2 linked regions of the Homo sapiens genome follow. The protein of the gene in region 2 interacts with the protein of the main gene of each other region in a biochemical or structural test. Each region holds a gene or a part of one and is shown on either strand. Other genes may lie near its edges. The genes, in order: TRPV4 and LIMD1.

Region 1 (3,821 bases), on a different chromosome or scaffold from region 2:
TAGACTTCCAACCATCTGCTTTTAAATCCATTTGAGTTCATTCATCCCTTTGGGGGCTACCATGCCCTCTCCCTAGGACCCCCCTTCTCAACGCCATATCCCTTGGAACTCAGCAGGACAAGATGGCACAGTGGTGACAGGCTTGGAGTCTGAATCTTGACTTTGCCATTTAGTAACTGCGTGGCCCCAGACGGATCACTTGACCTCTCCGAGCTTCAGTTTCCTCACCTGTAAAAGGGAGCTCATCACAGTTCCCACTGCTGGATTACTTGTCATTGTGGGTATCAGAGTCTCACAAAGTGGCCTCAAAGCACTGCGTGTGGAATGATGTCACTCGGACAAAAGCTCTAGGGCGGAGGGACTCCCTTCTGGTAACTGCTGAGGCCCAGATGCCTGGAACAGGTCCTGGCACATAGCAGCTGCTCAAGATGTATTTGCTGGATGAATGAATGAATGAATGAATGAACAGAGGAAAGGAGTGAAAGACGGGCTTAGTCATTCTCTCCAGGGCAGACAGGTCTCCAAAGCGAACCTCTGCCCAGCTAACTAATTAGCTTCCTCCCATCCATTTTTTAACAGACAGCTTACGGAGCACCTGCTATGTGTGGGGTTTTCTGGCCTATAAGACCAACACCTCTCATGAGGACAACTATCGTGAGCCCATTTTATAGATGAAGAAATTGAGGCTCAACAAGACCAGGACACTCACTCAAGCACACTTGGTCTCAGAGCCAGAGCCTGTATCTGAGCAGGTGCTTCCTTCTGATGCCCTGCCTGGCTGGCTTGTCCAGTCACTCATTCCTTCCTTCATTCATCCCTTCACTCTATCTACAGGTATTCCTGAGCCCCTCCTGTGTGCCAAGCAGGGACAGGAGTGAGCCAGACCCATGGGTCAGTCAACCCCATGCCCCCTGTCCCACCCTCACCTGCTGGGGTCTCAGCCCAAAGCCCATGGAACCCACCCTCCATAAACACACACACACACACACACTACACACAAATACATATACACATTACACACATATACACATACATACACACAATATACACACATACATACATATACACGCAAACATACACACACATACACACATGCACACATAGACATTCACATACACACATACACATGTATATACATACACATATGCACACACATACACACAGACATACATATACACACATACACACATATATACACAAACATACACATAAACATATAGTCATACATATACACACATACACATATATACACATATACACATACACATATAGACATACATATACACACATACACATACACACACAGACACACATACGCACATACACACGCACATCAATATACACACACATACACACGTACACAAACACACACACAGGGAATGGTCCCAGAAGGTGGCCAGCCCACTCGGTCAACCGGGTGGAACCCAGGCCACTCCACCCTCAGGGGAAAACGGGCGCCTGGTGAGACTGAGGAGCTCTTTGTGCAAGGGGCAGGGTGGGTGGACAAGAGGGGCTGCTGTTACTCACTAACCAAAGAAATAGAAGGATATTCCCGTTTGGTCAATGGCCCGCCTGTCTGTCCCCTGAGCCCCCGCCTCCTTCTGTGGCCTTTCCAATGCCCTGACCTCATCTGGAGACCGGCAAGGGCTTCCTGTGCGCCTGGTGTGGTCTCGTGTGATCCTCCCTCACCGATGAGGAAACATGCTCAGAGAAGTGATGTAACCTCCTTGGGGTCACACAGCCGGCAGTGGCCAGGGCTCGGGGCAGAAAGGGGAAACCAATGCTCAGGAAGGGGCTAGGGGTGGGAAGGAAGTCAGAGTCACATTGAAAGTGAGGCCCTGTCCCTTCCTCATTCCTGTCCGGCCACTGGGGTGCCAGCTCATGGGCTGCAAGGGCACCCGAGGTTGAAGGAGCCCAGGCCAGAACAAGAGCAGCAGCCAGAATAACCCAAATCCCTCCTCAAGTTGGCAGAGCTCTGACCTCAGCAAAGCCCAGGAACAGAGAGCTTAAGCCACTTTCTGAGGTCACAGAGCAGCAACTGGCGGAGCTGGGAGGTAAGCTAAGGTGGCTCAGACGCCAAGGTGGGTGAGCCTAGCGTAGCTTTCCACGCAAGAAGCTAAGCTGGCCACTGGGCTTTTCGTGGACCCAAGGACACCAGTGTCACTCAGATCTGGCTTCCAGCTCCAGCTCTGCCATGAGCCAGCTGGGCATCCCTGGGTAAATTGCTTCCTCTCTGAGTCTCGATTTCCTCAGCTGTAAAATGGGGCTCAGCATTCCTGCCCCTGCCCACCCCCGGCAGTGGGGAAGCTGTGACACCATCAAAATGAACATCAGCCCTCACACCTGTAATCTGAGCACTTTGGGAGGCCAAGGCAGGAGGGTTACTTGAGCTCTGGAATTCCAGACCAACCTGGGCAACATAGTGAGACCCCTGTCTGAAAAAAACCTTTTTTTTTAATAAGCTGGGTGTGTCCCAACTACTTGGGAGGCTGAAGTAGGAGGATCTCTTGAGCCCAGGAGTTCGAGGCTGCTGTGAGCTATGATCACACCACTGCATTCCAGCCTGAGCAACAGACTGAGACCCTGTCTCTAAAAATAATAAATAAAAAAAAAAGTGAACAACAGGCAATAGATGCTGGTTTTAAACTAAACACTCAAGGTTGTGCTGAAGACTGTCCACAACCTCCCAGCAAGGCAGGCATTACCTTATCCCCATTGTCCAGATGAGGAAACTGAGGCCAAAGGAATAATGGAACTTATTGGAAGCTGGGATTTGAACCTGGGCAGCTGGGCTCCAGCCCTAGTTTTTAAGCATTAAATCAGGAAAGTAAAAAAAGTTGACAGCTCCTGGCACTCAGTCAATGCTCATAAATATTTCATTGCTGAAAACATATCATTATTTGCCCAAATGCAAGTCTAGCTTTGCCCCCAATACCTTCCACCCACCCACCTGGCATGGAGGGGCTCTCTGAGGATGTCTGGGGGATAAGCTGGAAGAAAACATGCCCTGGAATGGGCCTGGGGACAAGGGGAGCTGACACGGGCTGAGGCAGAAGAGCTGTGCTTCAGAGCCCCATCCACGTGCCTTGGGTCATCCCTGCAAAGTGGGATGAGAGTCCCTTTGACACAGGAGGAAATGGAAGCCCAGAGAGGCCAGGTGGCTTCCCTGAGCTCCTCCAGCGGGGAATAGCAGGCCTGTCTTAAACATGCGGATGCAGTTTAAGCCCAGGCCTGTCTGCAGTTCAGGCTCTTTGTTTGTTTTGAGACAGGATCTCTTGCTCTGGACTGCAGTGGCACAATCGCAGTTCACTGCAACCTCTCACTCCTGGGCTTAAGCGATCCTCCCACCTCAGCCTCTCAAGTAGCTGGCACTACAGGTGCGTGCTACCACGTTCGGCTAATTTTTGTATTTTTTCTAGAGACAGAGTTTCACCATGTTGCCCAGGCTGGTCTCAAACTCACGGGCTCGACCGATCCACCTGCCTTGGCCTCCCAGAGTGTTGGGATTACAGGTGTGGGCCACTGCACCCGGCCAACTCAGGTTCCTATCTCTGGACTGCAGAGTAGCTCCCCCATGACCCCAGGCACCCCAATGAGGGTCCAGACAAATGGGGACGGGCCACCTTACAGGTGAAGGGATGGATTTGCAATCACACAAATGGGATTCAGGTCCCAGCTCTGCCCCTTCTCAGCTGAGAGAACCCAGGCAAGAGATTTCACCCTCTAGACCTCATTCTGCCCTCTGAAAAATAGAGACAAAAATAGTTTTGTATCCAAATGTGCTGAGGGTGCTTGACTCAGTGCTTGGCACACAGTAAGTG
Region 2 (2,867 bases):
AATATATTAAGGGTATTAACTCTTAAATACGTTGCAATCTTTTTTCCAGCTTATGATTTACCTTTTCAAAATTTTTTTAACGGCTGGGCACGGTGGCTCATGCCTGTAATCCCAGTGCTTTGGGAGGCCAAGGCAGGTGGATCTCTTGAGGTCAGGAGTTCGAGACCCGCCTGGCCAACATGGTGAAACCCTCTCTCTATTTAAAAATACAAAAATTAGCAAGGCATGGTGGTGTGTGCCTGTAGTCCCAGCCACTCAGGAGGCTGAGGCAGGAGAATTGCTTGAACCTGGGAGGTGGAGGCTGCAGTTGGCTGAGATCACGTCACTGCACTCCAGCCTGGGTGACACAGTGAAACTCTGTCTCAAAAAAAAAAAAAAAAAAAAAATATATATATATATATATATATATATATTTGAACTTGTAGTAATTTTCACTTTATATATTCACACTTACTAATATTTGGTTTCTTCTATTATATGATTTTTTAATGTTTTGTTCTTATGTTGTTTTTACCATTTACTTTAATCCATTTGTCATTTATTTTGTTGCCATTTATCATGATGTAAAGATCAATTAATCTTAAAACCTGACACACTTTATTGAGCAATTACTTCATGCCAGAAACTGCTCTAATTCCCTTACTTGGATGAATTCAATCATTCCTTACAACAATTGTTGTACCTGAGCGAGTTAGAAAAACGCCACACTTTAAGACGAATTAAGAGTCCTTTATTAGCCAGCGACCGAGAGACGGCTAACACTCAAAATTTTCTCAGCCCTGAGGAAAGGGCTAGATTTTCTTTTATACTTTGGTTTAGAAAGGGGAGGGGGGGGTCTAGTTAAAACAATTTTACAGAAATAAAGTAGGCAAAAAGTTAAAAGGATAAATGGTTACAGGAAAGTAAACAGTTCCAGGTGCAGGGGCTTTAAGACTATTACAAGGTGATAGACCCGGGGCTTTGGGCGTTATCAATCAGACGAATTCCTGGGAATTGCGGATATAGCTTGCCACAGTATCTTATCAGTTAATTGCATTCTTGGATGTGCTGGGAGTCAGCTTGCACAAGTTAAGTCCTTGAGGAAGGGGTGCCAGTGAAAGAGCCAAGATGGAGTCTGTCTGGCTGTCTTAGCTAAGGGAGAGTCAATTCAGGTGGAAACAAGGCTAGGTGATTAAAGGAAGAGGGAGAGTCTAAAAACAGGGTTAGTAAAAACAAGGTTGGGCATTACACAATCCCATGAGGTAAATTCAGTTGTTATCCCCATTTTTACAGATGAGGGAACTAAATTGGCTTAAGGTCATGGAGCAATTGAGTTATGAAGCCTGAGATAGAATGTGAGTCTGGGCTCTTGACTCCAAGGCCGTCCTGCCCTGTGGACTCACTGTACCCCAGAAGACACCGCATGAGTAGGTTCAAGGACAATTCCCTGTCTGGGCATGGACGGCAGTCACATCTGCCACTTACCCCTCACCCCTACTAATTAGCAACAAGAAGACCCCATTTCTAGTCCTTATGATGCTTTTACCCACTATCTCTGGGCTCTTGGACATTTCCTCTCCTTTAATAAAATAGGGGTTTAAGTTGCAGCCTGTCTCATAGGCTTTAGGGGGAAAAGAAATGCTTCCATATGAGCAACTGCCACCCATTGTCATGTAGAAGGAACTAAGAGAGGCAAAGTTTGACGTTTCTTTACCAGTTGGGAACCATAAACCAAGGCCTTTGTGACATTCAGTGAGACTGAAAACCAGAAAATAATCTGGCAGAAACCCCATTCTTCTGGGGTTTTTAAAGGCCAAACAAGCCAAAATCAGATTCCAAGGAAACCAATGTTCAGGATAAGGAACCAGCCAATGATGGGTAATATAAATTCATATCTGTAGCCAAGTTTTTCCTATAGTAAAATTGTTATATAACTTTTTACAAAATCTGCCAGAGGCCTTCCAATGGAGACAGTCCAAGCTGCAGATGAAGCTTGTTGGCACATCCAAATAATCTCTACAACCTACTTTTAGGGCCAGCTCCCACTTACAGACCTTTTAATATAGTAGTTAAAAAAAATTTAGGCAGATAGGGTACAGGAGTCCTTGGTAAGGCTTTTCTTTTAATAAAAAGCAGCCCCCAAAACCATTTCTTTTCCAACAGAAAGCAGCCTGAAAAGTCAAGCTGCAAGCATAAATAAGCAAGCTAGAAGCTTGCACAGATAAATGCCGGCAGCTGCACCTGGAAGACAGGTGCATCCAATATGGAAGATTTCGCCTCCCTTCTGTTTGTTGCCATGTGTGCAGGTGTCAAGGCTCTGGCCAAGTAAAAAACCCTATCTGCATAATAAAAGATCAAGGTGGAATGGCCAGTTTCTTCGAGGGCTATGTAAATGGCACACCTGGTCAAACCAATCCCTTGGGCTCTATGTAAATCAAATACCACCTCTTCAAACCCCCTCCTCTATATATCAGTCTGCTTCCCGCCAGGAATGGGGAGATCCATTCGGAGTCCTCCTCCCTCTGCATGGGGGAGCTGTTCTCTTTTTTCTGCCTGTTAAACTTTCTGCTCCTTAACCCACCCACGTGTGTCCGTGTTGTTAATCTTCTTGGCACGAAACAACAAACCTCAGGTATTTCCCCAAACAACGGAGCCGATTCACTTTGATCTATTTGTATGTCATGGAGTCTGGCTTCCTGCCGAGTTTTCAAATTGGGTGTCCCCTCACTTTCACTCCGTCACAGGCTTGCCGTGGACCAAGTCTCATGGGCAACACAGGGCCCAGAACCACCTGTCCTTGAGAGCTAGGATTAGTTGGAGGGACATGTATGTGACCAAGTGGTGGCAGTCCCTGAGGCTGCCTTACACACCTGGACGTATCCACATAG

Evidence for each region.
Region 1: the proteins of LIMD1 (region 2) and TRPV4 interact in a test that uses a peptide from one of them, tested with the Homo sapiens proteins (one large-scale study listed by BioGRID).

Annotation. Positions count from the first base shown.
Region 1 is NC_000012.12:109,826,582-109,830,402, forward strand, and holds part of TRPV4 (transient receptor potential cation channel subfamily V member 4), read right to left. Parts: intron 1,022-3,821; exon of another isoform or gene 229-1,021; intron 1-228. UniProt on the Homo sapiens protein: Non-selective calcium permeant cation channel involved in osmotic sensitivity and mechanosensitivity. Activation by exposure to hypotonicity within the physiological range exhibits an outward rectification.
Region 2 is NC_000003.12:45,684,183-45,687,049, reverse strand, and holds the end of LIMD1 (LIM domain-containing protein 1), read right to left. Parts: 3' UTR 709-2,867; downstream 1-708. UniProt on the Homo sapiens protein: Adapter or scaffold protein which participates in the assembly of numerous protein complexes and is involved in several cellular processes such as cell fate determination, cytoskeletal organization, repression of gene transcription, cell-cell adhesion, cell differentiation, proliferation and migration.